Homo sapiens: one gene and its partners. The protein of the gene in region 1 purifies or fractionates together with the protein of each later gene. This does not show direct contact. Each region holds a gene or a part of one and is shown in the gene's direction. Other genes may lie near its edges.

What was found.
Region 2: the proteins of AQP12B (region 1) and RMDN3 purify together in Homo sapiens (affinity purification with mass spectrometry; one large-scale study listed by BioGRID and IntAct). This does not show direct contact.
Region 3: the proteins of AQP12B (region 1) and RABL3 purify together in Homo sapiens (affinity purification with mass spectrometry; one large-scale study listed by BioGRID and IntAct). This does not show direct contact.
Region 4: the proteins of AQP12B (region 1) and CLPB purify together in Homo sapiens (affinity purification with mass spectrometry; one large-scale study listed by BioGRID and IntAct). This does not show direct contact.
Region 5: the proteins of AQP12B (region 1) and SPG7 purify together in Homo sapiens (affinity purification with mass spectrometry; one large-scale study listed by BioGRID and IntAct). This does not show direct contact.
Region 6: the proteins of AQP12B (region 1) and LNPEP purify together in Homo sapiens (affinity purification with mass spectrometry; one large-scale study listed by BioGRID and IntAct). This does not show direct contact.
Region 7: the proteins of AQP12B (region 1) and TIPRL purify together in Homo sapiens (affinity purification with mass spectrometry; one large-scale study listed by BioGRID and IntAct). This does not show direct contact.

The regions. Positions count from the first base shown.
Region 1 is NC_000002.12:240,675,675-240,680,338, reverse strand, and holds the end of AQP12B (putative aquaporin-12B), read left to right. Parts: intron 1-131; coding exon of another isoform or gene 132-191; intron 192-554; coding exon of another isoform or gene 555-853; exon of another isoform or gene 854-900; coding exon of another isoform or gene 901-1,067; exon of another isoform or gene 1,068-1,316; coding exon of another isoform or gene 1,317-1,416; exon of another isoform or gene 1,417-1,528; intron 1,529-1,960; coding exon of another isoform or gene 1,961-1,998; intron 1,999-2,619; coding exon of another isoform or gene 2,620-2,740; intron 2,741-3,594; coding exon 3,595-3,794; coding exon of another isoform or gene 3,795-3,813; 3' UTR 3,814-3,921; downstream 3,922-4,664. UniProt on the Homo sapiens protein: Putative aquaporin. Could form homotetrameric transmembrane channels, with each monomer independently mediating water transport across the plasma membrane along its osmotic gradient.
Region 2 is NC_000015.10:40,737,855-40,742,050, reverse strand, and holds part of RMDN3 (regulator of microtubule dynamics protein 3), read left to right. Parts: intron 1-1,857; coding exon 1,858-1,918; intron 1,919-3,474; coding exon 3,475-3,550; intron 3,551-4,008; coding exon 4,009-4,086; intron 4,087-4,196.
Region 3 is NC_000003.12:120,696,984-120,701,179, reverse strand, and holds part of RABL3 (rab-like protein 3), read left to right. Parts: intron 1-2,606; coding exon 2,607-2,757; intron 2,758-4,196. UniProt on the Homo sapiens protein: Required for KRAS signaling regulation and modulation of cell proliferation. Regulator of KRAS prenylation, and probably prenylation of other small GTPases. Required for lymphocyte development and function. Not required for myeloid cell development.
Region 4 is NC_000011.10:72,427,738-72,431,933, reverse strand, and holds part of CLPB (mitochondrial disaggregase), read left to right. Parts: intron 1-1,570; coding exon 1,571-1,622; intron 1,623-4,196. UniProt on the Homo sapiens protein: Functions as a regulatory ATPase and participates in secretion/protein trafficking process. Has ATP-dependent protein disaggregase activity and is required to maintain the solubility of key mitochondrial proteins.
Region 5 is NC_000016.10:89,552,741-89,555,868, forward strand, and holds part of SPG7 (mitochondrial inner membrane m-AAA protease component paraplegin isoform 1 precursor), read left to right. Parts: intron 1-238; coding exon 239-395; intron 396-1,053; coding exon 1,054-1,220; intron 1,221-1,745; coding exon 1,746-1,823; intron 1,824-3,128. UniProt on the Homo sapiens protein: Catalytic component of the m-AAA protease, a protease that plays a key role in proteostasis of inner mitochondrial membrane proteins, and which is essential for axonal and neuron development.
Region 6 is NC_000005.10:97,022,855-97,027,050, forward strand, and holds part of LNPEP (leucyl-cystinyl aminopeptidase), read left to right. Parts: intron 1-1,666; coding exon 1,667-1,828; intron 1,829-3,762; coding exon 3,763-3,903; intron 3,904-4,196. UniProt on the Homo sapiens protein: Release of an N-terminal amino acid, cleaves before cysteine, leucine as well as other amino acids. Degrades peptide hormones such as oxytocin, vasopressin and angiotensin III, and plays a role in maintaining homeostasis during pregnancy.
Region 7 is NC_000001.11:168,181,399-168,185,594, forward strand, and holds part of TIPRL (TIP41-like protein), read left to right. Parts: intron 1-2,503; coding exon 2,504-2,683; intron 2,684-3,380; coding exon 3,381-3,480; intron 3,481-4,196. UniProt on the Homo sapiens protein: May be a allosteric regulator of serine/threonine-protein phosphatase 2A (PP2A). Isoform 1 inhibits catalytic activity of the PP2A(D) core complex in vitro. The PP2A(C):TIPRL complex does not show phosphatase activity.

The DNA.
Region 1 (4,664 bases):
CAGGGTGGGGTCCCTAGGGCTGCTGGGGCCCACAGAGCATCCTGGCACGTGGGGTCCTGCAGGGTGGAGGTGAGGGTGCCTGGTCAGTGCTCCTGGGGAGGTCTCTGCAGTGGGCATGGTTTGGGGGGTAGGGGCTGTGACGGCATGTCTCACTGTGGACACCGTCCCGGTGCCGAGCAAGCTGCAGCCAGGTAAGGAGGCCACAGGCTGGGGAAAGGCCAACCTTGCAAGGGGTGCTGGGCACACGGGGGATGGTGTCTGCAGTGGGGCTCCATGCACCTGGGGTTCCCGTCCCAGGTGGCATCTCCACACACCCAGAGCCAGACTCCGCCGAGGGGGGCTCATTCTGGTGTCCCTAAAGCCTCAGGAGGCAGAGAGCCCCGCTTAGATGATATAGGGTGCCATCGTGCACTTATAGGGCTGTGAGCATGGGGCTGGAGCAGCCAGGCCCTTTGCATCCTGGTGGGGCAGACCCGGGACTCGCTGATGCACACAGGGGACCCCAGAGTTCCCCCACAGTGTGTGCCCCTCCTTTCTTATATCCTGGATCCAAGCAGAGGAGCAGCATGGGGAGGTCATGGAGCCCCCTCTTGGACCTAGATCTGGGGATTCTGGCCCCTGGCTTCAGAGGCCCAGGTGGAGCCCACACCTTCTCCTGCACCTGCTCTCAGACACTCGGCTCCACCTCACTGAGGTACCAGAAGGGCAGCTGGGTTCCTATGGAATTCTGGAAGCTTTTTTCAGCTTCTGCTGGCTCTACACTGGGGAGGTCTCAGGGGCAATGCCTCAGCCTCCCCTTGGGGGGAAAGACAGGAGCTGGGGGTCTCTCAGGCACCTGGCCCTGCGATGGTGACACTGACGTCATCGTGATTTGTCGCCATGGTTCTGATGTGGTCACAGTCTCTCAGGCATGTGCAGGGTCCTAGGAAGCATACGAAGTGCATCAGGAACCCCCTCCTGCCCCCGTTGCCGAGGCAGCACTGCCCTCTGCTAGGAACAGCTCCGTGTTGGCCTCTCTGTCCCCACACACTGGGCCTGCAGGGCTTCTCCGAGACTCTTCAGTTCAGGTATCAACCCTGGGCTGTCTCCTGGGATGTGGGGGGCGGATGTTCTTTCCTTGCCTCCCCACGCTCCTCCTGCGGATCCTTCACTCCGGGTGGGTCGGCCTCTTCCTCCTGATCAGCTCCAGAGCCCCCTCTAGTTCCCTGGCATGGAAACACGGCCCGGGTGAGCTGTGGTGGCCCCGGAGGCCTCTCCGCTCCTGCACAGGCCTTGCTTCCTGCGGGTGACGAGGTCCTGGACTCTCTCCTGCCCAGGCTTCTGGGTGCTTTCCTTAGTTCAGCACCAGTGCTCTGTGTGGGCAGCGTCTCCCCCGAGGATCCGCAGCTCCGGGTTACCCGCAGGCGTCCATCTCCGGTATGGTGCTGCCCTTCACTGATCCTGGTTGTATTTCTGTTTCCTGCTTTCCTCATCGCCTCCTGTTTCGGTTGATTCCTTCTTTTTGCTGGTGCCCGTCTCACAGTAGCTTCCTGAGAACGGGGACCTGGCAGGTACACTTCAGACCTCCTGTGTCTGAAATAGTGTCCTGGTTCTGACCTGCACTTGAGTGTCGGTGAGGCCTGGGCAGGGTTCCGGGTGGGAGCTCAGTTTCGTCCTGAGTTTCTCAGGCCCCAACCATGGCCTGTGGTGGCTTCACGGGCTACAAGGCAAAGGACGCAAACGAAGAGGCTTCACGTGACAGGGTTGTATGCTCAGCCAGCTCTGGAGGCTGGAGTCTGAGCTGGCAGCACTGACAGGGTCAGCTCTCCTCGGAGGCTGCTGGGGAGGAGCCTCCTGCCTCTTCCGGGCTCCGGGGGCCTCTGGCACCCCCGGTGTCCCCGGGCTTGGAGACGCAGCACTCCCATGTCTGCCGGTTCCCCTGGCCGCCTCCTCTGTGTCATTGTCTGTTCTCTTCATATAGGGACACCAGTCATCGAATTGGAGGTTCACTCTACTCAAGTATGACGTCACCGTGATTTCACTGATTTTATGTCCCAGGCCGTATTCTAACAAGGGCACATCCTGTGTTCTGGGAAGGGCGTGTCGCTGGGGAAATACTCTTCACCCGGCTGCAACCTCTCACTGTAGAACTGCCTCTGTGGAGAAGCCCAAAGGGCATTTGCGGCTTCTAGGAGCCAAGTAGGAGGAGGCTGGGATCCGTGTTTCAGGCGGGACTCCAGGCTTGGGCGGGCCTGATACTCGAGTCCACATGCCCCCTCTAGAGAGGAACCTGTCTCCTGCCAGGGCCAGGGAGGGGGGCACTGGCTGCTTCTGTATTTTGGGGTTTGGGGCCCTGGAGCTTCCCATGCGGAATTGCCGTCCCTCCTCCTAGGCGAGTCCCAGGGCCACCCCATCCCACAGGGACCCGGGCGCCAGCTTCTGAAAGCATGGGGCATCTGCGGAAGAACTGGGTTGTTTCCCAGCTTTCGTCCCTGCGGAGGGGCGATCCGGCCCCTCCATGTCAGCAGTGTTTGGTCGTCCACATGCTTGTCAGCCCCACGCTGTGCTCCTGCGTCTCTTCCCGTCTCATCCATCTGGATGCTTGACACCTCTGACAGCATCCCTTTCCTGTCATCTTAGGGCAGCTTCAGGAAACCGAAAAACAGGCTTGTGTCCTTCCATTAACCCCTTTATCCACAAGTTCAGTATCAGCATGAGCCCTGGGGAGCTCCAAGGCTGCAGCCAGGAGCCCCGTAGCCAGGTGTGGACATGGGGCTATCTCCCTGGGTGTGAGCGGCCACCGGCACCTGCTGGCAGCACCCCTGAGCAGGTCATCCCGCCTCCCTGGGCCTGCCCTCCTGGGAACAGAGCTAGGACCAGTGTGGGCCTGGAGGGCCGAGTGAGGGGCAACTGTAGGCAAGCTGTAGGCACAGGGGCCACTGTCAGGAGCCACAGCAGCTGCAGGTGGTGACAGGCAGGGCCCCCTCAGGCCAGCCCTAGTGGAGCTCACACACTGTGGGTTAAATCCTTAGAGGAGTGAGATCAAACTTGAAGAGGATCTACTCTCCCCTTCTGCCCGGAACACCTGCCCTTCCCAATGACCTGGAAGGCAGGCGGGGATTTAGGAGTCTCTGCTCCTGGAGTTCTGGGAGAACGTTCGCATGAGGATTTAGCCAGGCCCAGCCTCCCACCCAGGGGCATCCACATCTTTCTTGTCCACTCACATCCCCCACCTCTACGCCAGGCCACAGCCCTGCAAGCAGCCACCCTGGGACGCCACATCAGGTCCCGGAGGAAAATGGCCACAGAAGCTCTGGGAGTGGCTCAGGACAATGTGGGGGGAGGGGAATTCCAGTCACTCATCCCAGAGGGTGGTCCAGAAGTACAAGGAACCCCACCGGCTTGCCCCCGTCCCCATGGCTGGCATACCCAGAGAGAGGGGCATGACCAGGGCGGGAAGACCAGGACCAGGCAGGAGCTGGGCCTCAGGGTTCTTGGGGCTCCTGGCCAGGCTGCCTGGCTCGCCTGTCCTGGCACAGGCCTGGGAGTGGGTGTCCTGTCTGTGTTTGGGCCCAGGAGCCCCGCGGCCCACCTGGGACCTGCCTTCTCTTGCAGGGATGGTCCTGGCTGTGCTGCTGCACCAGGGCCGCCTTCCCCACCTTTTCCAGAGGAACCTGTTCTACGGCCAGAAGAACAAGTACCGAGCACCCCGAGGGAAGCCGGCCCCGGCCTCAGGGGACACCCAGACCCCTGCAAAGGGGTCCAGTGTCCGGGAGCCTGGGCGCAGTGGTGTTGAGGGGCCACATTCCAGCTGAGTGGCCTTGCTCTGTGTGAGCCCCGTGCGAGGGCCCTGCTTGTAGCTGGACCCTGGAACCTTCTGTAGCTAAGAGGGAATCCTGGCCCCCTCCCCAGAAGCCATTTGTCAATAAACCATTTCTAAGACCTGTGTGTCCCCCTGGGCCCGAGAGAGGCTTCTGGAGGGGCAGGCAAGGGTGTGCGGCAACACGGTGAGGCTGGTCCGAGTCTCCCCATCTCCCGCGGGCTCCTTCCTGCCTCTTGTTACAGAAGAAGCAGGAGAGGAAAGGGCAGGATGACAGGGAAGAGCCCAGGGAGTCCGCCAGGTCCCAAGTCTGCCAAGATGATGCTGCAGCCCTGGACATGCCCGGGAGGGAGCCCACAGCCACGGAGGCCTGAGACCCGATGGGATGCTGAGGATGGTGCTGGAGCCTGAGGCTGTAGGCTTGTGAACTAGGCACAGGGCACCCAGTCCCACGGGCCCTGAGTTCGCGACCGTCAGGACCATGGTCCGCTCGCCGCCCAAAGCCAGGTCAATCACTGAGACCTTGGTGGCAGAACTGGGACCTGGAGGCATGGCACCTCCAGCCATTTCCTTCCCAAAGAACAGAGCCGGTCTGGAAACTTCCACCCAAAGGAGATAACGGCCCTCTGCTATGGGTCCTGCTGCCCCACCCAGAGGGAGGGAGTGAGGTGGCCGGTGCTCCTGCCACAGGCTGTACCCCGTCCTCTGGTGGGCAGCAGCCCTGGGCTCAGCCGCTCTGCTATGGGGGAAGGACGAGAGGAGAAAGCAGGGAGATGTCCTCGATGCGGGGGGCTACGGGACACCCCAACCCCAGTGAGACCTCCACCCCGGCCAGCGTCCAGGCTCTTGACACCATCGTGAGAAG
Region 2 (4,196 bases), on another chromosome or scaffold:
GAGACCCTGTCTCAAATAAAAAAAGGAAAACATTTCAGATTAGCCAGTTTACCACCTCAATGCATTACATTTGTTCCATTTTCTCCATGTTCCCTTCCAAACTTGTTTTCTTCAAAGAATTCTTGGCTGGGCACGGTGGTTCGCACCTGTAATCACAGCACTTTGGGAGGCTGAGGTGGGCGCATCACCTGAGGTCAGGAGTTTGAGACCAGCCTGGCCAACAAGGCAAAACTGTCTCTACTAAAAATACAAAAATTAGCCAGGTGTGGTGGCACACACCTGTAATCCCAGCTACTCGGGAGGCTGACGCAGGAGAATCACTTGAACCTGGAGGCGGAGGTTGCGGTGAGCCTAGATCGTGCTATTGCACTCCAGCCTGGACGACAGAGTGAGACTCTTGTCTCAAAAAAAAAAAAAAAAAAAAAAAAAATCCTATGTTGCAGTGTCTTCTCCAGTGCATAGGCATGATGGTCCTTATCTGGTGGTCCGTAAGCTCCAGCCTCGATACTCTTAAGTGACGCTTGTCAGAACTTTCATGTTTATGGGCTTTCATTTCTTTGTTAGAACACTAACCTAGAAAACTCGGGTAAGACTAAGTGAACGTCATCTCTGGTCAGACCTCAGTCCATGTGGCTCTTGTGAAAGAGTTTTGGCCTAGAGCTAATTAATATTGTTGGATCGTGGATCCTTTTGAGAATTTTTTTTTTTAAAGAGATGGGGTCTGCCTATGTTGCCCAGATTGGTCTTGAACTCTTGGTCCCAAGCTATCCTCTCCTTGGCCTCTCAAAGTTCTAGGATTACAGGTGTGAGCCAATGTACCCATCCCCTTTAGGGAATTTTTTCAAAGCTGTGATCTCTCTCCCCACTTACTTAAATTTTATACAACTTGAGATTCATGGACACTGCCCCTCCAGAGTAAGGTCTGTTGGGGACAATTTCTGATTGTGTTGGATCCGTTGTTGTTGTTTTTTTTGAGGTGGAGTTCGTCGCCCAGGCTGGAGTGCAGTGGTGCAATCTTGGCTCGTTGCAACTTCTGCCTCCCAGGTTCAAGTGATTCTCCTGCCTCAGCCTCCTGGGGAGCTGGGACTACAGGATGTGCCAACATGCCTGGCTAATTTTATATTTTTAGTAGAGGCAGGGTTTCACCATGTTGCTCAGGCTTGTCTCAAACACTTGGCCTCAAGTGATCCACCCACCTCGGCCTTCCAAAGTGCTAGGATTACAGGCATAAGCCATCGTGCCTGGCTGGATCCTTTTATATTTTAAATGCTAAAATCTGCTTCAAGCACATCAGGTGGGCATTATAAAAAGAAGGTAACTGGGGTTTCTAATGACAGATGGGGAAGCCAAGGTGAAGCAGAAGTCATCCCTGAAGTCTTCCCTTAGAAGCCGTTTGCAGCCTTTTCTGAGACAGTCTTGCTCTGTCACCTAGTCTGGAGTGCAGTGGTGCAATCTCGGCTCACTGCAACCTCTGCCTCCTGGGTTCAAGCGATTCTCCTGCCTCAGCCTTTTGAGTAGCTGGGACTACAGGCGCCTGCCACCACGCCCAGCTAATTTTTGTATTTTTGGTAGAGATGGGGTTTCACTGTGTTGGCCAGGCTGGTCTCCGACTCCTGACCTCAGGCGCTCTACCCGCCTCAGCCTCCCAAAGTGCTGGGATTACACAGCACAGAGGCGTGAGCCACTGTGACTGGCTTCTTTGCGGCCTTTCATTCTGCTCAAGTTCACAACTATTTCCAAACAAGTCCAAGCTGGGTAGGGATTGGTGAGAGCTAAAGCAGTCATTCTTCCCACAAGCCTTCCTATGAAAGTGTGCATAAGAGCTATGTCAACTCTGGATCTACCTTCGTCCTACAGGAAAAGAAGAAGCAGAGGCTGCTCTGGAGAAGGGGGATGAGAGTGCTGACTGTCACCTGTGGTAATAACACCCTGCAGTGTTCTGGGAAGAGCCAGCAAGGGCCAAAGCAGAGGACAGCCCTTTCTTTTCTCTGCCTGGGCCACAGAGGCATTTTCCAAAGGATCCAGGAGAGGGAGTTCTGGCTTGTATCTCCACATGCCTCAGTCTACCCCTAGCCAGAGACAAGGGAAGTTTCTGGTAGGGGAGGTGGCTTAGGGATGAGGCAAGCGGGGAATACAAGCTTTTTTTCTGATGGGGCTTGGAGAAATGAGTAGCTTTGTTAAGAGTCATCCTAGCTACAAAACTGGAGTTCTTGGCTCTCAGGAGGCTGGGACAATCTGCAGCTCCCCTATCCTGCATAAGCTCTTCTTTCCCCTGCGTGTGATCCCTGGCTGCTGGTACTTTGGCTTCTTTGCTTGGTTCATGTGAGGAAAAGTAGATGTGAGCTCACCCCCCAGAAGTTTAGTGGTCAATTTATTAGGCTGCAAAAACATCAGCCCTTTTTGTGGTCTCATGTGAGGCAAAGTTCTGTCAGCTTACCTGGGCCACGGCTAACTCATATCCTGGGGTCTGGTTCCAGCACCTGAGTTTTAGTGAAAATGTTCCTTTCCTTTCCCACCGCCACCCTTGCTTTCCATGTCTCCACCCTCAGACTGTGAGCTAAGTGAGAGGCTGTGTTTCTCCATCTGTTGCTGAAACTTTTGTCTCTGCAAGGGTTCTTCTCAGAGGCCAGGTAACTGTTTCTTGGGTGTCACTGCTTCCCTGGGCTTCCAAGGATGAACAGCTATTCCTGAGGAACAGCTGTTTGGATTAAACATGGAAATGAGCCTCTAGAAGTATCTGATACCCCCCGGATACTTAGCATATACATGAAAAAGCAACTTGGGCTGGTTACTCATCGAATGTCAACTGTGCTGCTAGGAACAATGCTGGGGGGATGGGGAAGTAAGACTTTGTTTCTGAAGACAGATGATGGGAAGCTGGCTGGCTGGTTCCCTTTGGGAGGGGGGATGTGGGGGAGAAGGCATATATAGGAGGTCTTTCTTCCTCTGGTTCTGTTGGTTTCCAAGTAACATCAGAAATTCCTAGAATATCCCCTCCCAATGTGACTATCCTAAGAAATTGCTTCCCAAGTCCCAGTGATACACCTGTATGCTTAAAGGCTAATGAGACCCACTTTTTTGTCTGCCCAGAAGATAAGTAGTATAGTCAGGTCTCATACTTTTATGCTGATTGTTTTCATGCTTTTCAAGTTTTTATTAATGCCTGTGGCTGTACTCCTTATGAGTGTAGGAGAGATTTACTGTGTAAGAGAGATTTACTGTGGTGAACCCAGCTTTTTTTATACCTAGAATACTTTGGAGACTTGTAAGCCTACCATTATCTACTAAAGAATACTAATTGGGGCCAGAGGTCCGTAAAGAATGGGGATTACGTACAGATGAAAATTAGGTATTTTCAGCTCTAGTTGAGGGTACAGGGATAGGGGACAATGCAACTAGGCTGTGGTTGGGGCATCCATTCCTTGCAGTGATGGTACTCAGCCCTTGTCCCTGAGCTTGCTGCTTCCCCCCTAGGTATGCGGTGCTTTGTGGTCAGCTGGCTGAGCATGAGAGCATCCAGAGGCGCATCCAGAGTGGCTTTAGCTTCAAGGTGAGGACAGGCTTTTCCTCCTTCCTTGTGCTGGCCTATCCCAGATTCCCCACTCCTTTCCAGCTCCCTGCCAAAAACTTTTCTACAGCCTCAGTGACTTGCCTTTCTTCTTTTTTTTTGAGACAGAGTCTCACTCTATCGCCCAAGCTGGAGTGCAGTGGTGTGATCTTGGCTCACTGCAACCTCCTGGGTTCAAGCGATTCTCCTGCCTCAGCCTCCCAAGTAGCTGGGATTACAGGCATGTACCACCATGCCCGGCTAATTTTTGTATCTTTAGCACAGATGGGGTTTCACCATGTTGGCCAGGACTGGTTTCGAACTCCTGACCTCAGGTGATCCACCTGCCTCAGCTTCCCAAAGTGCAGGGATTACAGGCATGAGCCACTGCATCCGGCCCTTGCCTCTCTTTTAGCAACTCTGGTGTCTGATGTTAGTTTATATTTACATTTTCCCCTTAGGAGCATGTGGACAAAGCCATTGCTCTCCAGCCAGAAAACCCCATGGCTCACTTTCTTCTTGGCAGGTGGTGCTATCAGGTAAGCTGCGTTTCAGTGCTTGACATAATGGTCCTAAATGCCTTCTGACACCGATTTCCTTGCCAGGAAGAACAAGATCCTCAGCCTTCTCTGGCTCAGGTGCCCTTTCT
Region 3 (4,196 bases), on another chromosome or scaffold:
TAGGTTTAACAAATCAAAATGCAGAGAATATATATCGTATACCTCCTATTGTATAAGAAAGAAAAGAAATAATATGTATTTATATTTGGATAAAGAATCAGTGAAAAATAAGAAACTAATAAAAATGGTAACCTATAGGGGGCCAGGGGAGATGGGTGGATGGGTACAGTGGTAGGAGCAAGACTGCTTAGCATATATCTTTTATATCAGTTTGAGTTTTTAGCCATATTTAAACAATTTAGGTAAATTTTATATTATGTAGTTTTTACCACAATAACTTTTTTTAACTTTTTATTATAGAAAATTTTAAACATATGTAAATACAAAGAATGGAAAATGAACTCCCATATACCCGTTGCCTAGTTTCAACAATTATCAACATATAGCTAGTCTTGTTTCATCCATATCTCTACCCACTTTCTATCTTCTCCCACTCTCAACTGGATTATTTTGAACCAAATGTTAAAACATCATATCATTTCATCCATATATACTTTAAAACATAAGGGCTTTTTTTTAACATGACACCATATAATTATCACAGCTAAAACTTTAATAATAATTCTTTAATAACCAAATATTATTTTAATTTCCCCAATTGTCTCATAAATGTTATAATTGATTTTTTCGAAATAGTATCTAAATAAGGTCCACTGGTTGTATTTGGTTTCTTAAGTATCTTTTAATCTTAGGTTCTCCCTTTTTGGTTGTTTTTTTTCCAACCTCCTAGCACTTTATTTGTAGAAGAAGATGGCTGTTTGTCTTGTACAGTTTCCTATATTCTGGATTTGCTGATTGTCTCCCTGTATTGTCTTTTAAACTTGTTTCTCTGAATTCTAAATCTTCTCTGAAGTGATAATTAAATATAGTGGTCTGAAAGATGCAAGTTTTTTTGTCTTTATTTTTCCACCCAGTATTATGCATATAATATGATACCTGGCTGTGTGTCTCTTTGTGATGTTAAGGAGCTATCAGCCTTATCCATCCATGATAAAGTTCTTCAGAAGTTTACCAAAGAAGATTTCAAGATTAAATTTTAAATTGGATGCTGCAAGATTTTATGAAAAAGTTAAAAGGAAAGCTAAAAAGAGAAATAAGAGAGCAAACTATATATGTATGCTTTATATGTGTCAGTGTGCAAGGAATTGTGCAAGACTATATGAGAGATGTATGTACATCAAAGATGATATTTGATAGAAGATATGCAAAACTTTGTATGTGAGACAGAAGGAAACAGTCCTAAAGGAAAGACACTCTCAAAACTTCATTCCCTAACAAAGCGAATTGTAGCTTTGAACCATGTCTCTTTAATTAGAGTTGCTGTTGATATGAATAATCAAAGGTCTTGATCATGCTATTATTGGCTTTGATGCAATAAATAGAATGGTAATATTTTTGTGAGATGGGAGGTTGTATAGTAAAACACTTGTGTTCCGAGGCTGAACAGTTTGCTGAGGCGCTGTAAGATTATTGTGAAGGGCATAAATACTTAGTAACTTTGCCCCCTACCCCAATTTAGAATTTCTGTAAGAGAAAGAAAAGTAGTGTTAAAGGAAGAAAAAAAGCTATGCTCGACTGGGTTGTAGTGATTGGATTATGCAATATTGATTTACTGTCATAAATTGTGCACAACCAGATTTTGCTGACTGTTGTAAGTTGAGCTTATAACGTGTCAGAAATCCAAATCTGTTTTATTTCTAATATGTGAGTAGAATTTAAATTAATTCAACAGCAATGGCCTCTGTGTTCTTTTCAGTAATGAGAAGTATCATTTACATCACCACTCTGTTCTTTGGATAAATAAATTTTTTAAAAAATAAGGATTGTAATAGCCAGTGATCCAAGGCCACTAACCCTAAGTGGTTCTTATTGCCCGTCCTCTATCTCCCATGGCTCTCATTTCAGGAAACAACTACTTGGTACTAAGTTCTTTCCTTTTACTATTCATTTTGCATTTCAGCTGTTTCCTTCCATTTCCATGTGTTTAATCCACCTTTCCCAGGCTATAGTATCACCTATATTTGATTTATTCTAGGCTTCAGCTTCCCTATTTCTATTTTCTTATTCTTCTTATTTCTTTACTATTCAGACAGAAATGTGTATTGTAGATATAGAATTAATGCATACCCCAAAAGGTACCCAAGAAGCTTGCCATTTTCTCTTCTAGCACAAGGCTTGAGTGCCATGCTAGGCTTTTGGGTTTTTGCTACGATGAGGCTTAAATCCACTCTCTGCTTCTACTCTGAAATATTCCTGAGCTGTTATGTTAACCTTAGAAGACACAGCTACATTGGAAGTTAAGTCCACTGACTGTAATATACTTGATGGGCACTTAGTTGTTCAATTATTCAGTATTGTTCAATATTCAATAAAAACATGGGACCAAATTTTGAGAAGTTAGATGAATAGCTGGAATCTGATGATGAGGATGGATTGATAAAAGAACAAGTAGATGGAAGAAGTTGGAAGGAAAGTAGGTTTGTAGGTGAAGGCAGCAAAAATCAGTTAATTTTCAGTAAAATAGTGTAACTTAGTTGCACTTAAATATTACACATCTACACCAGAAAGATACATTCTATTCACCTCTTCATTATTATTTATCACAGGGATTATGATCAAGAACAGTTTGCTGATAACCAAATACCACTGTTGGTAATAGGGACTAAACTGGACCAGATTCATGAAACAAAGCGCCATGAAGTTTTAACTAGGACTGCTTTCCTGGCTGAGGATTTCAATCCAGAAGAAATTAATTTGGTATGTATTTTCACTAATGCATGCTTGTATTATTATCGGGTAAAGACAAAACTGAAGACATATTCAAATAATATATTCTAGTGAAAGAAGCTTTATACTTGAAATCAGGCTATTTGGATTCTAGTCTAAACGTAGTCAAGATTGGAATCAACATATCTAGACTGAGAGATGTGCACAGTCACTTCAGCCTTTTATGTTGGTCTGTTGGAATGTTCCAACTTTATTCTATGAATAATTTAAATCATAGGCTTCTTTTTTTGAAACAGAGTCTCGCTCTGTCGCCCAGACTGGAGTGCAGTGGCGCGTTCTCAGCTCACTGCAGCCTCTACCTCCTGGGTTCAAGCGATTCTCATGCTTAGGCCACCTGAGTAGCTGGGATTACAGGCATGTACCACCATGTCCAGCTAATTTTTTAAATATTTTTAGTAGAGATGGGGTTTTGCCATGTTGCCCAGGCTAGTCTTGAACTCTTGACTGGATTTGCCCTCCTTGGCCTCCCAAAGTGCTGGGATTACAGGCGCGAGCCACTGCACCTGGCCCATGGGCTTTTTCTTGAGAAAGGTTTTTAAAATCACACCAAAATTAAAATAAATTGATTAAAGTGGCACTATAAGCATATTATTCTTGCTTTTAAAAAGCCTCTTAGCTTCTTAAACTACAAATTTTACCTTAAAGGGCAACGTAACAAATACATGAAAAAATTGCAAACCTTAAACTAGGAGTGCTTCATAAGGACTAATTTATGTACACTTATGCATATATAGAGGATTGAGTCCCTTGATGAGATAACTAGCTCAATGAGAACTGAGCGCGTAAAAAAGCTAAGAAATGGTTGTCATGTAAGCCTGTTAGGATCCCAGAAAAAGATCCTGGCCAGCAATTTCAGTCATGGTCATGTTGTTCACAAATAGGATTTCTGCAACTGTGCACTGGCATTCCAGAAATGCAGTGGTGGTGGTGTAATAGTACTAGTGAGCAACATTTATTGAGCACTTACGGGTTGAAAACTGTTTTAGTTATTTACATACATTATCTCACATGCATCATCTTCACAATCAACTCTATAAGACAGGTACTATTACTATCCTCTTTTTAAAGATAAGAAGGAGAGACGTAACAAGACCAAGGAAGTTTACCCAGGTCAATTAGGGTATTCAGATTCAGAGCCTGTGCTCTACAGTTAAGCCTCTTTTGCACTTAATTAATCCTTCAACTCACCTTGAGAATTTGGCAGCTGAAAAAACTCTTAGAAATCATCTAGACCAACAGTTACCCAAATCTGATTGTGTATTTATATTACCAATAGTACCTATGGAAAATTTTGAATAACCGTCCCACAGCTGGAGCTTTTTATTCATCAAGCCTGGCAGGAGGACCAGGAATCTGCAGTTTTAACAAATAACTCAGGTGCTTCTGATGCCTTTATTCTATGAATCAAT
Region 4 (4,196 bases), on another chromosome or scaffold:
TGAACTCCAGCAAGAATACCAGGGTCTATTTACCAAAATAGATAATGGTCAAAGCCGTGACCAGTTCCTGCTGGAACTGACTTGCCAGCTACCCTGTCCCCTGACTTAGAGTTTTGACCCTCAGTGCAGTGTGGTAGAAACTGAACCCTTTTAGAAGCCAGGAGGCCCTGGTTCTTAGCTCATTCCTCACTCTGTAACCTTGTAGAAGCCACATTTTTTTCTGCAGAGTGAAGGGAGAGTGGATATAGCCATCTCTAAGGAAGGCTTGATCCCCTCCCAGCTGGTGGCTGTCTGAGCCATGCTTGGGTATGTGCTTTAGGTACATCCGGTAAGGTAAGTAGAAAGGACCTGTCCCTGGAATCTAGGCCAGGAGGCATCAATGTCTGAACCACAGGACTGGCTTTCATATGCATGATAAGGTGTATTGTACAGATAAGGAAACTAAGGCTCAGGAGGTTAGATAGGTGGGCTAGGTTATACAGCAAATAAGCGACAGAGCTGGGCTAGACCCCAGGTCTGACTGTCTCCAGATCCTGCTCTTTCACTCTACTCCAGTGCATTTGCTCATGAGTGAGTCTTTTGGCTGGACTGAGAGTTCCCTGAGTCAGGGCTGGCTATGAATCCGCCCACTGCCCAGCAGTGTAGCTCAGAACCAGGCTGGGCACAGAGGGCTCCATGTACCTGGTATTGAGCTATTTGAAAAGATTGTGCCTCTCCTGTTGACTTTTGAGTTTTTCTGAGTCAGTCCAATTTTCTTTATGGCCACAAGGTGGTGGCAACAGCCTGCAGGCTGCCCAGACCAGGCCAGACGCACTTAGCTAGCGTTGCTTTTCTCCTAGGCTTAGTGTCTCCTCTGCTTTGGGTCTCCCTTCCCTGGGCTCAGCACTGGGGAGTTTGCAGACGTCTCAACTGTCATTTCATCTCCTTGACATCCTTGTGAAGCTGGCAGGGCAAGGAGTTTTGTCTATGTTTTACAGTCAGGAAAGCTGTGGTTGAGAGAGAGAGGAGCTGTCATGGTCACGTGGTGAGTAGTGGGAGTGGAATGGAGCTAGATCTCAAAGACTCCTAGTTGAGACCTCTCCATCCTCAGAGAGGCCTACACCCTGCTTGCTCCTCTCCATTCTACCTTTCCTTTTGGGTTTATGACTTGACATCAAGATTCAGAACTGGGTTGAAGAACTGGAGTTGAGGGAGAAAGTGGACAAGATCAGGGAATCTTTAGTAATAACTCTTATAGGAACATAAAGCATATGCAGAGCTTCATAGATTATGAAGAGCACATTATTTACCATAGGCAAGACGTGGTGCTAGCAGTTGACCTGCATTCCCTCTATGATGAGAGGAGTGAAGAGTTTGGGCTCTGTAGTAGAAAGGTGTGGAAGTCAGGTTGTTAACAGTGGACACCATGTGGGGAGGGAATGATTCGTTTCTCATTATATATTGTGACATCAGTTTGCTTGTCAAAGTCCACGTTTCTAAAGTACTGCCACTGTCTTAGTGGGCCCTCCACGCAGTCCTGAGATGGGTATGTCCTGGCCGCGGATCTGACCAGTGCCCCCTTTCTCTTCAGATGCAGCCCTGTTGGAAGCTGCCCGTGCCAACAATATGCAAGAAGTCAGCAGGTGAGTTGAACCCCAGGCCTTGCTCTCCCCTACAGGAGAGGCTGAGCAGGGCGAGCCTCTTCTCGTGTGATGACTTTGCTTTGGAGGAAATCCTTACCCTAAGCTGGGAACTGTCCCCTGTGACATCTCTGTAGTCACAGAGTCACCTGGGCTTCCTTTACCCAGATCACCCCTTGGATATTTTCGGTAGGGAGTCAGCTCCCAAACATCCCTGGATCCTTCAGCTATTTTGTTCTTCACTGGGTTGGTTTGGACTCCCTTCAGCCCCCATATCCTTTGGGTTCTTCTCTGAATCTTCTGATTTGTGCTCATTTCTTTGGGAATGGCCATGTATTACTGCTTGCTGCCTGGACAGGTTGCAGGTCGGCATCTATGGAAAGGCTTGGGGATTTGGGACAGAGCTGGAAGAGACCATCTGCCAGAAGGTCTGGGGCTAGAAATGCCTGCCTGCAGGGCCAGGGGCCCATACCTGGCTTTGCCCGGGGACAGACTGCATTTCTGTAGCTTCACTGGCTCAGCTAGTCTCCAGTGACCACTGGCAGGTTGAATTTGAGGCTTATTATTTGGCAAGGGCAAGATTCAACTCGGCTCAGCCCAGTGCCAGGTATAGGGCAGAGTCTGTGTCCAGGATGGATGCTCAGACTGGGGCCAGCATGGGGCATCAGTTACAGGGCTGTTGGTTAAGGGCAGAGGTCTTATTCTTGTTGAAACTATGCCCCCCACTGGGCCTAACCTTGGCCTCTCTTGGCCATTTATATAGAGCTAGGTGGCCATAGGACACCCCCCTTCCTTGCCATCATGTCTGCATGTTAGACAGGAAGTCAGGTGTTGGGGTGGCTATTTCCACACCCAGTGCCACAGGCCCTTGGTGTTCTTCCCCACCTTAGCTTCCTGAACATACAAGAAAGTGTTGAAAAGCAGCCCACCCCACCAAGACTTACTGCTTTGATTCCCTTTCATTTTATCTGCAGCATTATTATTGATTCTCAAGGGTGCTTTTGGGTATTAATGTTCAAGCCTTAGTTTTTAATAAACCACTTTTGGAAATATGGGCTGGGAGTTGTTTTGTAGCCAAATAAATATGTTGGAGCAATAGTTTAATAAACATGCGATGATGCATCTTAAAAACCAAGCACAGATGTCATCCTGTTGTTATAAGAGCCATTCATAACTGCAGGCTGTGTGTGGCATCTTCATTCCTCCAGAAACAGATGTGCTTTGCTTCATTCTGCTGCAGTACAGGAGTACGGGTATGGAAACTGACCCTTGCTGACCCTGGAATCACCTGTTGGCTACTGCGAAGGGCTGCCGGGCTGCGACTTTCCCCTTTTGGCAGGGCATTTGCAGAGCAGCAATGTTGGGAATCCACTCTTCCATCCCCCAGGGGATGCCACTACCATATTCCATTGAGCTGCCAGGCATTGATTATTTAGTTCTTTCAAATACATGTTTTTCTAATAGCAATTAAACACCCATCCCAAAAATACAGAAAGTAATTGAACTTAACGGTGTATGTGTGATTCAGACAATTTTTCTGAACATTCATTCTCGTGTGGATAGTGTCTGGGGGGGCTTTTCATGTGTGTCCCCAGGCTCTAGCCTGCTTTTCTCCTGCCTCCTCTTGTCCCACCTCACTTGGTCAGGATGACCCTGTCAGAATCTCCCTTCACTCCATGTGAGGACATCAGAGATGAGCGAGGCACAGACCTGCCCTCAGCCCCCATCTCATACAAGACCACAGAGCCAGGAGCAAGCTAAGCAAAGGCGGGAAGCAGATGCTGGCTGGCTGCTGGGCCTGCGGAATATGTTGATGCTCCTGAGGTGGGATTTGTACAGGGTGTCAGAAAAGAGGGAAGGTTGTCTGAGAGAAGCTGGAATGTGCAAGGCCTGCCATGCCCAGGGTGAGGAGTTTTGAACTCTTACTCTGTACACAGTGGGGAGACGTGGGAAGTTTTTGAGCAGGGGAATGACCCAGTTAAGGCTGACTTGCAGAGGAGTGAAGGATGGACTGCATTGGGAAAAGGCTGAGGGCCGATCTGTTAAGAGGCTGTTTCTGTTTCAGTAAAGACAGATTCAAGATGATGAGGGCCTGAATGAGGACATCCTTCCCTCCCCCTCACCCAAAGCAGCTCTTGATTATGAAAGAGTGAGTGGGCCTCTGCTGGGCACTGCAGATGGGGGATGGGGATGGTGACCCAGGCCCTGGTCTCAAGGAAACAGACATGTAACCCACCAGTTATAGTTCTTCCTGCGAACAGAGCCAGGTCTGGGGGCAGTGGGGGTAAAGGGAGCCTGACCATCCTTGCTAGAAGGAAACTTTCTGGAATTCCTACAGTAGGTCCTTATTCAGCCTTTCTGTACCCTAGACTCTGTACAGGTGGTTCATGCTGCTCTTTATTTCTTCTTCAATGTCCTGGGCTCTTAGCTCTGCCCAACAGACCTGCCTATAGCAGGACAGAATCCCATACTCATTTATTTCTTTGAATTTACACATACAGTCATGCCTTGCTTAACAATAGGGACACATTCTGAGTAGTGCAATTTCATCACAGTGTGAACATCATAGAGTATACT
Region 5 (3,128 bases), on another chromosome or scaffold:
AGTCATGTATGAGAAGACACTTCCCGGCAGTGTGTGAACAGGCACCTGTGGTGGGAACGCTGCTGTCTCTGGGCTGGCCATCTAGAGTGTTAGGATCCCCTGTTGTTGTAGAGGATGCTGCACATTTGCCTTCCTGCTTTGAGACGCTTTAATGACGGAGACCTCTTAGTCCCACACCTTCCTCCTCAAAGCCCACGCATCCTGCCTACTGACCTGGGTCATCTTGACCTTGTGCCAGGTCTCCATAACCCCTCGGACAAACGCCGCCCTGGGCTTTGCTCAGATGCTCCCCAGAGACCAGCACCTCTTCACCAAGGAGCAGCTGTTTGAGCGGATGTGCATGGCCCTGGGAGGACGGGCCTCGGAAGCACTGTCCTTCAACGAGGTCACTTCTGGTGAGGAGCAGCGGCGCGGGCCCTGGAGGTTTCAGAGCGCTTTTCCCTGCATGACTCCTTCTGTTCCAGTGCATGCCATGGGGTGAATCTGGTGTAGACGTAGCTTTGAATTTATTAAGTATTTTGTAAAAGATAAGTTGTGGTCATAAGAGAGTTGGAGCTAAGCAAGACTTCTTAGATAATTTAATTGGACAAAAACTTAACCTATATGCCAACTCTAGACACATTTAATTGGTTAATTGTTGGTAATGGCTACAGGAAACGGAATAAAATTGAAGCGGCTTCATTGTTCTGAAGCCATTACTGCACTGGGATATCCAGAGAGCTGAAGGAGGGTCCCGGGGGCCCCTGGGCTCCAGGTCCATGGGTTTGCCTCGCATAGGCCTGGGCTTGTGCTTGAGAACTGCCATGCAGTGAGCTCCAGTATGCCCCCGGGTTCTAGATTTCCAAATAAAAGAGCATTTCGGAAAGTTTTAAGACTCTCTTAAGGAACAGTGGTGAGGTGCCAACGTCCTCACTGTCCAGCTTCACGGTGGGTCCTCGGGAGGAAGGGGATGGAGGTGGTGCTGCCTCAGTGCTCTGACCGGGACACCTGGGGCCCAGCACTGCTCTGCGCCTGCAGTGCTGAGGATGCCTCTGTCTCGACCCCGCCCTCCAGGGGCACAGGACGACCTGAGGAAGGTCACCCGCATCGCCTACTCCATGGTGAAGCAGTTTGGGATGGCACCTGGCATCGGGCCCATCTCCTTCCCTGAGGCGCAGGAGGGCCTCATGGGCATCGGGCGGCGCCCCTTCAGCCAAGGCCTGCAGCAGATGATGGACCATGTGAGTCGGCTCTGGCCACACCGCTGCCCTCTGTGCTCCCCGGGGAGGGAGTCCCTGGGTCTACCACACAAGGGTCGCCCACGGCCGCCCCAGCGGAGCTCAGCTGCAGGCCCCACCTGGGTTTCTTCCTTCTGGGCTCTGCTGTAGTTCCCACCTGTGGAGTATTTTCTTCTCAAATGAGGACATAGATGCTCCTAATGAAATTATAGATGTGAATCTGGGAAGAATATCAAATAAATACACCGAGCAATAGACCCAGGGCCCACATGTCCTTCAGACTGGGCCAGGAAGGGCCGATGTGTGCCTGTGAGGCAGCTGTGGGTGGGTGTGGGTGGGTGGGCTGGCATGCGGAGCCCTGCTTTCCTGGCACTGGTCACAGGGGCAGGAGACCACCTGTCGGCTGAGGAGTCCTGTTCCTCCTGGGAGGGGAAAGGCCGTGTTCCCAGTCTGCCATTTCTTTTCTGTGCTTTGGTGCTGGAGCCAGGCGGCCAGCCTTGCCCCTGACACAGTTCCCTCCACTCACAGGAAGCAAGACTGCTGGTGGCCAAGGCCTACAGACACACCGAGAAGGTGCTGCAGGACAACCTGGACAAGTTGCAGGCGGTGAGGCCCTGGCCAGGCGTGGGGGCTACGGCGTCACACAGTGTCCACACAGCACCCACGGTCCCCACCCCTCTCGTGAAGTATTTCCAAGGCACACAGAGTACAGAGAACACTCTGACCGATGTGAATTCTACCCAGCTCAACTGAAACTTACGTGTTCCATACTTTTTATCCTGAACTCGTCAAGTGTGTTCCCCCGAGGTAGAAAGAAGGCTGCCACAGTCTCCTGTGCCTCTTCCTGCCATTAGCAATTACCAATGTTTTGTCAGTTTTGTTTAATCTTTTCCCAAGTCTTACACTTTTTTCTTGAACATTTTTTTAAAACAAAGCTTTAATTTTAGAGTAGGAATTTTTTTTTCTTTTTTTTTTTGAGACAAAGTCTTGCTCTGTCACCCAGGCTGGAGTGCGATGGCGACATCTTGGCTCACTGCAACCTCTGCCTCCCGGGTTCCAGTGATTCTCCTGCCTCAGCCTCCCGAGTAGCTGCGACTGCAGGCATGCACCAACACACTCGGCTTTTCTTTTTTTTTTTTTTTTGAGATGGAGTCTCTCTCTGTCACGAGGCTGGAGTGCAGTGGTGCAATCTCAGCTTACTGCCACCTCCACCTCCCCAGTTCAAGCATTCTCCTGTCTCAGCCTCCCAAGTGTCTGGGATTACAGGCACGCGTCACCATGCCCAGCTAATTTTTGTATTTTTAGTAGAGGTGGGGTTTTACCACATTGGCCAGGCTGGTCTTGAACTCCTGACCTCAGGTGATCCGCCTGCCTCGGCCTCCCCAAGTGTTGGGATTACAGGCGTGAGCCACAGCCCCACGCTGATTATAGTGTTAGATGTAGAAAAGTTGCAGGCGCGGTGCAGAGAGCTCCCTGCCACCCTGCCTCGCTCCCGTGGAGGCCCCCATGGGGCAGTCCTCCCACCTGAGGAGCCCCCGCCGACCCGCGGTGTTGGGTCCACACGTGATTCAGATGTGCTGAGTCTCCCCAGTGTCCTTTCCGGTCTTGGGAGTCCACATGGCGTTTGATCGCCCATCTTCTTAGGCTCCTCTGGGGTGACAGTTCCTCAGACCTCCCTTGTTTTGAGGGCTCTGGCAGTTTTGAGGATTGGTCTCATGTTTTGTAGGACGTTCCTCAGTTGCGATTGTCTGATGTGTTTCTCACAGTGGGCAGAGCTGGAGTGAACGTTTTTGTCCCTGGGTTTGGTAACTGCTGCTTAGAACTCAGGAGAGGTGCACGGCTCTTTGTCCCATGTTGTGAACAGATGGGTAGGCAGTGGATAGGTAGTTGTTTCTTCAGCCTCCCCTTGTG
Region 6 (4,196 bases), on another chromosome or scaffold:
TCAATTCCCACCTATGAGTGAGAACATGCGGTGTCAAACAAGACTTTTTAAAAAATTGTGGTAAAATACACATAACATAAAATTTACTGTCTTAACCATTTTTTACTGTACAGTTCAGTAGTGTTAAGCATATTCACATTATTGTGTACTATATTTTCAGAACTTTTACATCTTGCAAAACTGAAACTCTGTACCCATTGAATAATTCCTCACTCCCTCTCCCCACCAGCCCCTGGTAACCACTATTCTACTTCCTGTTTTTGTGAGGTTGACTACACTGTATATCTCATATAAGTAAAGTCATATAGAATTTGCTTTTTTGTGACTGGCTCATTTCATTTACCATAACGTCTTCAAGGTTCTTCCATGTTGTAGCATGCATTAAAATTTCTTTCTTTCTTTCTTTTCTTTTTTTTGGAGATGGAGTCTTGCTCTGTCACCCAGGCTGGAGTGCAGTGGCGCGATCTCAGCTCATTGCAACCTCCACTTCTCGGGTTCCATTGATTCTCCTGCCCCAGTATCCGGAGTAGCTGGGATTACAGGCATCCGCCACCACACCTGGCTAATTTTTGTATATTTAGTAGAGACGGGGTTTCACCATGTTAGCCAGGCTGGTCTTGAACTCCTGACCTCAGAAAATCTGCCCACCTAGGCCTCCCAAAGTGCTGGGATTATAGGCATGAGCCACCATACCTGGCTAAAATTTCTTTCTTTTTAAAGGCTGAATAATTTTCCATTGTATGTATATACCACATTTTGTTTATCCATTCATTCCTGGATAGACCTTTGTGCTGCTTGTACCTTTTAGCTATTGTGAATAATAATGCCATGAACATTGGTGTGCAAATATCTCCTAGAGACCCTGCTTTCAATTCTTTTGGAAATACACCTGGAAGTAGTATTGCTGGATCATATGGTAATTCTAATTTTAATTTTTTGAGGAACTGCCATATTGTTTTCTACAGCAGCTGCACCATCATTCCAATTTCTCTACATCCTTGCCAACACTTGCCATTTTCTGGGTTTTTGATAGCAGCCATCCTAATGGGTGTGAGGTGATAAACAAGTCTCTTAATTTAGAAATAAAACATAGCAGGTAGAGTTAGCAGTTAACAGAAAAGCTTTTGGGGGTAATTAGTTCTCTCCAGCTCCTTACCGTGCATTATGGAGAGAAGATTCAAGCATCAGATGAAGAGTTGGGGTGGAGGATTTGGATAACGTTTTGAGGTCTTTCCCAGCTCTGAGATCTTAATAAAGGCAGTAGACTGTGTTTTCTCCCTGCACCCCATTTACTGCTATAGTTCTACCATGAAACTTATCACACTGAATTGTAATGCATATAGTTATTGCTCTATACTTCGTAGTAGCCTGTGAGTTCTCAGAGGACAGAGGCTCTCATTCCTTTTCCGCTCCCTAGTGTCCAGCCAGTCGCCTGCCTGGTTCTTTGTGAGTACTCTGTGAATATTAAATTGAACTGATGTATCCATAGACACACTACTAGGAAGATAGCAGTCACTGAATTAAACTTTTTCTCAACCCTAAATTGTGTACTCAAACTTGTTATTATTACCAACCCTCACACCAGAAACTCCACCACAGCCAACTCTTCGCCTTTGTATTCAGAATATTTTCTTGTTATTCTCATGTTTGACCACCTCTCTTACAGCCTACCTACTGATGTCATGACAACTGTGTTCAAAGTTGGAGCAAAAACTGACAAAGGCTGGTCATTCCTTTTGGGCAAATACATTTCTATAGGCTCTGAAGCAGAGAAGAACAAAATACTAGAAGCACTTGCCAGCTCAGAGGATGTGCGGAAGCTTTACTGGTATGAAATCACCGAGGAATATGATATACAGAAACCAAAAGAATACAAACACTGTGCTCTTGGTCAGGAGCTCATTTTTGAGGGGATCTCTTTTCCCCACTTCTGTTACAGGCCAGGCCTAAGTTGGACAGTGTGGTGAGGAGACTACAGGTGCTGGGCTTTATCTTTATGGACAAGCAGAAAATCCTTTGCCCAAAAGGGATTACAAGATGTCAGGAGTCACAGCCCCCTCCTACTCCTTGCTCAAAAAGTCTTCCTCCCCTTGGAATGTTGTCTTATACACCACAATTGGTACTCCATAGTTTAGGACCAAGGCATTGCTTTGTGCAAGCTGTCATTTTAAAAATGTAGGCATTTCAGAAAAAAAAAATCACATATTAAACCTTCTAGGTTCTACGTTCATATGAATTTATTTGTCAGACTTTTCCTTTTTAATATGTAGTGATGAAGGCCCAGAAGTAGGAGTGTCATATGGATGAAGGTAGGGCAGTAAGTAGGGCCTCCTGACAGGAAGAACAGGCAGTGGTGGGGTAGAGGAGCTCTACATAGCCAAGAGGAATATAGAGGTATCTGCTGTAGAGAGCACAGGTGTTAGAAGTCGCACTGAGGATAGAAGGAGGCTTCTGGGTCTCATTACTTCTGTTGTATGATTTTGCTCAGATAAATCTTAATAGTGTCCCAGAGATGTCCTCAGTACCTGTCCAGACCCACTTACCAAAAGATACGCTGTAAATAGTCATTTTCTTTAAAGTATTAGCCAGCCTCTGACTTAAGCAAATAGAGAAAAATCACTGTTTTTAAACTATGCTAGTAATACACTAAGAATGCCCATGATAAAGAATTTAAACAGTACCTAAGAATATAGAGTAAAATATGAAAGTATTTCTCATGATCCTTCACTTCCATTCTCGTTTTCTCTGTTAACAACAGTGTCAGTCCTGGTCTTTGTATTCATCTGTGGGAATGGATATTTGTACATATGTACGTACATACATACACACATACCTACATATTTAACTGCATTTTAAAAACCATATTAGGTTTATACCATACCCAGTGTTTTGTGACCATCTTTTTAGTGAATGATCAGTCTATGAGATTTTCCATGTCACTTCATGAAGCCTGCTTTATATATAAAAAAAAACTAAAGTGTTTTATGGGTTCATAATATTCTGTAGTATGGCCCTATCATAATTTATTTAATCCATCACGTTTTGTTGGGCTTTTGTTTTTTTCTCTCCTAAAAATACTGCCACAGTCTTGGAGTGGGGCGTGGTTTCTCACTATAAACAGATAGTATAGCATAGTAGATGAGAACTGCTTTTGTTCAGATGTCGGGCTTTGGTATTTATTACTGTGTGACTGTGGGTCAATTAGATAACCTCAGTTTCTTCAACTATAAAATTGAGTTAGGTAGTATTAATAAATACCTACTTTATAGCATTGTTGTGTCAAGGACTTAGAACATTATTTAGTACATAGTGTCAGTAAATGTTTGCTACGAACATTAATAAGAGTATATTCTGAAATGTATCCTAATTTTCAAATAATTCAAATGACCTAGTTTTTTTTAAGAATAGTAATATAATTAACCTGCCCATTCAAATCAAATAAGGTTTTTACCAGAAAAAAATACCCACCTCCCGAATTGTAATAAATTCTACCAGAACTTATTTCCTAAATGTTTTTACTATTTAAAAACTATTTATTGTCATGTGACAATATAGGTAAATGCCTATTTTATTGGTGAGTTCTTTCTTCATTTAAAAAAAATGACATTTTCAATCTATAGATCAACCGTAGACTAATGCAACAGTTATTTCTCAATTTGCTACACAGCTTTAATTAGGAAACCATACTAATTTTAATTTAAGTTCAGTCATCACTTCTTCATGAATAATAATTTTGGAGGCTAAATCTGCTTTGCTCTTCAGGTTAATGAAAAGTAGCCTGAATGGAGATAACTTCCGAACACAGAAGCTGTCTTTTATCATTAGAACAGTGGGTCGACATTTTCCTGGACACTTACTGGCATGGGATTTTGTCAAAGAGAACTGGAATAAGCTTGTACAGAAGTAAGTTTCTCAGAGAATTATTAACTTTTAGTATTCTCAAGTTGTGCATTTGAAAAAAGCTCCCAGTGTTTTGGCTCACAGAAGTTAGGATTTGCTGTGAGAGGAAAAATACTTCCATGACAGTTTAACTGAAACATCCGGAAATTTTCACATTTGTTAACATAATTCCATAGCATGAATCATTTAACAGTAGCATTCCATCTAAGTTCTAATTAAGCCTAGCCTTGCTTGGCACCAGGTTACTTAGCTCAGCGTGGCTACAGACTATTTCATAGCAACCATTTAGCTATGCA
Region 7 (4,196 bases), on another chromosome or scaffold:
TGGGGTTTCACCATGTTGGTCAGGCTGGTCTTGAGCTCCTGACCTCAGATGATCCACCTGCCCTCGGCCTCCCAAAGTGCTGGGATTACAGGCATAAGCCACCGCACCCGGCCTCCTCTCCATATAACTTTCTGTGACAAATTGCCGATTGGTGCAAAAGTAATTGCGGTTTTTAATTGCAAAACCGCAATTACTTTTGCACCAACATAATACAATATATAATTATATTATATATAAAGCAGTCAGCTTCAAACTGGGGCCCCCATGTAATTTACTTACAGATTCTCTAAGCGATGGCTGTATACATGGAGAGTTTTAAGGGAATAAAATTCCATATCTACGATCTCCTTATGTATTATTTTAAAAACAAATTTGCCTGAGGCCGGGTGCGGTGACTCACTCCTGTAATCCCAGCACTTTGGGAGGCTGAGGCAGGCGGATCACCTGAGGTCAGGAGTTCAAGACCTGCCTGGACAACATGGTGTAACCCCGCCTCTACTAGAAATACAAAAAAAATTATCTGGGGGTGGTGGTGCAGGCCTGTAATCCCAGCTACTCTGAAGGCTGAGGCACGAGAATCACTTGAACTTGGGAGGTAGAGGTTGCAGTACGCTGAGATCGTGCCACTGTGCTCCAGCCTGGATGACAGAGTAAGACTCCGTCCCCCACCCTCCGCCAAAAAAAAAAAAATGCCTTTTTTTATATGACAAAAGGAAGACTTACCCTCACCAATCCCAAATTTTTCTGTGATGCATTATCATAGATTGTAAAAACCACTAAGGTGCTAAATAAATTGGTTGGGTAAAATATTGGATTAAAGAAGCTCTTCTAATGAATATTTAAGGCACCTTAAAACCACAGGAGCTTCCTGTCTTCTCTCCTTGTAACTAGTTATACCTGTTTTTAAGTGGGAAGCTTGATGATGTTAGAAATAGGGCATTTTCAGGCCGGGCGCGGTGACTCACGCCTGTAATCCCAGCATTTTGGGAGACCGAGGCAGGTGGATCACCTGAGGTCAGGAGTTCGAGACCAGCCTGGCCAACATGGTGAAACCCTGTTTCTACTAAAAATACAAAAATTAGCCGGGCATGGTGGCACGTGCCTGTAATCCCAGCTCCTAGGAAGGCTGAAACAGGAGGATTGCTTGAATCTGGGAGGCGGAAGTTGCAGTGAGCCAAGATCGTGCCATTGCACTCCAACCTGGGCAACAGAGCGAGACTCCGTCTCAAAAAAAAAAGAGGGCATTTTGGCCTATGTTTAAGAAACTCTATATTTAGAACACTGAAGGACTGTAAATTAGTAACAGTGATTCTTTTACATATATGAGTGGAATATTTTATAGGACTGCCACATTTTTCCAGATATATTGGTTAGAATCCACAGACTCACATATTATTTCACATTTGGTATGCATTATTCAAGTTAAAACTTATTTTATGGAATCTTATGGAATATATATTCCAATTACAGTTTATTGTATCTAATCTTTTAAGTATTTAATATTTTCTATCTCCTAATAACAAAGAATAAATTTTACTTAAAATTATGATGAAAGTTAACATTGTTAGTCCTGAAGACCATTGTTAACATTGTGCAGTCCTGAAGACCTGCACCTCAAAGTTAGATCACTGATATGTGCACACAGAAATACACGTTTAGATGTAATAAATATACAATGTGTGTCCAGTTTTTTTCTTACTATTTTATCATAAGCATTTTTTCATATTATTATAGTCTCTCTTTAAACATTTGTAATGGTTCCATAATATTTCATCATATGGATATACTTTGGTTTGCATAATCATTTGTTGCTTTATAATGAAACATTCAGAGTATTTCTTTTTCATGATTATAAGTAAAGCCATTATAAGTATTAATGTGTATAATATTTTTCTGTACTTGGAATTATTCTTTAGTACAGGTATTCTAAAACTGATACTTTGGGTCATAAGTGTGTAAATTATGTTAAATTCCTGTGATTTTTTTTTTTTTTTGCTTGATTGTTGCCCCAGGGTGAAATGTAAATTGACACAATCCTTCTGAAAGTCTGTGTAGGCAAGTGCTGAGTTCCCTCATCAGTGTCAGGTGCTTTTGCTTTTTTCATCACCACGTTTTGAAACTTTTAACAATTGAGAATTTTAATGGAAAAATTATTTTCCTACAAGAGACAGTATCTTTAATTGCTTTGCTATCTTTTCTTCATACCCTCATGATATATATTATAGTAATATCTGTGTGCTATATATTATAGTAGTATAATAAGCTATTATATTACGTATTTGTATATTTATCTTATTTAGCCCACTACTTAGTACAGTGCCATATGATGATGAAAGAATGGATGATGAAAGCATTTTATAGACCTTGCAAATATATCATATTGATTAAATCATGTGCTGTGTAACTCATTCAGCAAGTAGGAAGAATTCTGTTGGGATGGAAAAGAAACAAAAATGCCAACAGCGATATAAAATTATCTCACCCGACTTTTGGTTACGTATAGATTAGCCGATGAATTACATATGCCATCTCTCCCTGAAATGATGTTTGGAGACAACGTTTTAAGAATCCAGCATGGGTCTGGCTTTGGAATTGAGTTCAATGCTACAGATGCGTTAAGATGTGTAAACAACTACCAAGGAATGCTTAAAGTGGCCTGTGCTGAAGAGTGGCAAGAAAGCAGGTGAGAATCCGGTCAATTAGGTTAAACAAAAAAGGTAATTAGGTTAAACAAAAGAGAAAAGACTTGAAAAAATATTCAGTAATGATACGTGTGTGTTGTTAGAATGAAGGGCTGGTATTATTAAACTTGAGAGTTGTATCATTCTAGAATTCGTTTTTCTCAGACATAAAAATGGAAGTTAATTACCCCACTGCTTGAATACTTGTTAAAGTGAATTACAACTGAGCTGAGCTATGTACGTTTTCGATTTTTCAGTGTTCCTTACTGAAGAGGCAGTAGGCTATACTTAATGTTCCTGTTTTTAAGAAAAAATGTTTACTTATGATATGCTTAATAAATACCCTATTTGAGAAGCATTGAAATTAAGACAACATGTTTTTCTTTGATAGTCAAATCAGCAATTATTTACTTTGTGCCTAATATGTACTAAGTACCTTAGATGATACAAATAAGTATAAACCTTTAAACCATGTCCTCAGGCTGTATACAGACTAATTGAAAAGACTACATCAGTACATGACAAGTTAAATAATAAATGCAGAAAAACTGTAAGAAAAACCTTGTACTGGTGAATTATAACAAGTGTATATATTTAATAGGATATGTTATTATAGAATATAATTTGATGTGATATATAAATACAGATAATCTCTATTCTGCATCACTGAATCTGATCCTTCTCATTTTGGTATTTGAGGACGGAGGGTGAACACTCCAAAGAGGTTATTAAACCATATGATTGGACCTATACAACAGATTATAAGGGAACCTTACTTGGAGAATCTCTTAAGTTAAAGGTAAATCTTACTTTTTTCTTTCATGAGTCATTGATTGTCTTGGACAGTCTGAGCATTAGAACTTTCTAGTAACGGGTTATTTTTTGCAACTATTTTTATCGTCCTTGTTTTCTGTTGTGGCATTCCTCAGAACCTAATGTGAGGGGGTTTTGCTTGTTGACTTATCAGTAGAAAATAAAAGACGGCATTAGTGGAAAAATTTATTTTTAAAAGTGTAGTTGGTGGCAACGGCAGACGGCCTTGTTGTTATCATTATCACTATCAAGAAACATTAAAATGTGTTTCGGGCCTTGGTAATGTATTACATGATTTAGACAGAACCTGCTAGCTTGTAGCTCACAAGTTTATAGATGAACAAATATATGAGCAAAAAGAACTTCTGGTTAGACAAAGTAGGTTTATGCCCTGTCTGCCCTGAGTATGAACCTGAAATGACTTTAGGAAGTTACTTAATTTGAGTCTCAGTTTTATCAATAAATTGGGTAAACAGAAATATCTACCTCAAAGCAGAGTTTTGATGTGAAATAATTTATGGGAAGCTCTCAATAAATTCTAAAGCTCTATATTAGTATTAAGTCCTGTGTGTGTAAGCCCTGCTTGAGAAGAGATTGGGGCCAGGCGCAGTGGCTCACGCCTGTAATCCCAGCACTTTGAGAGGCCGAGGCAGGCAGATCACGAGGTCAGGAGCTCGAGACTAGCCTGACCAACATGGTGAA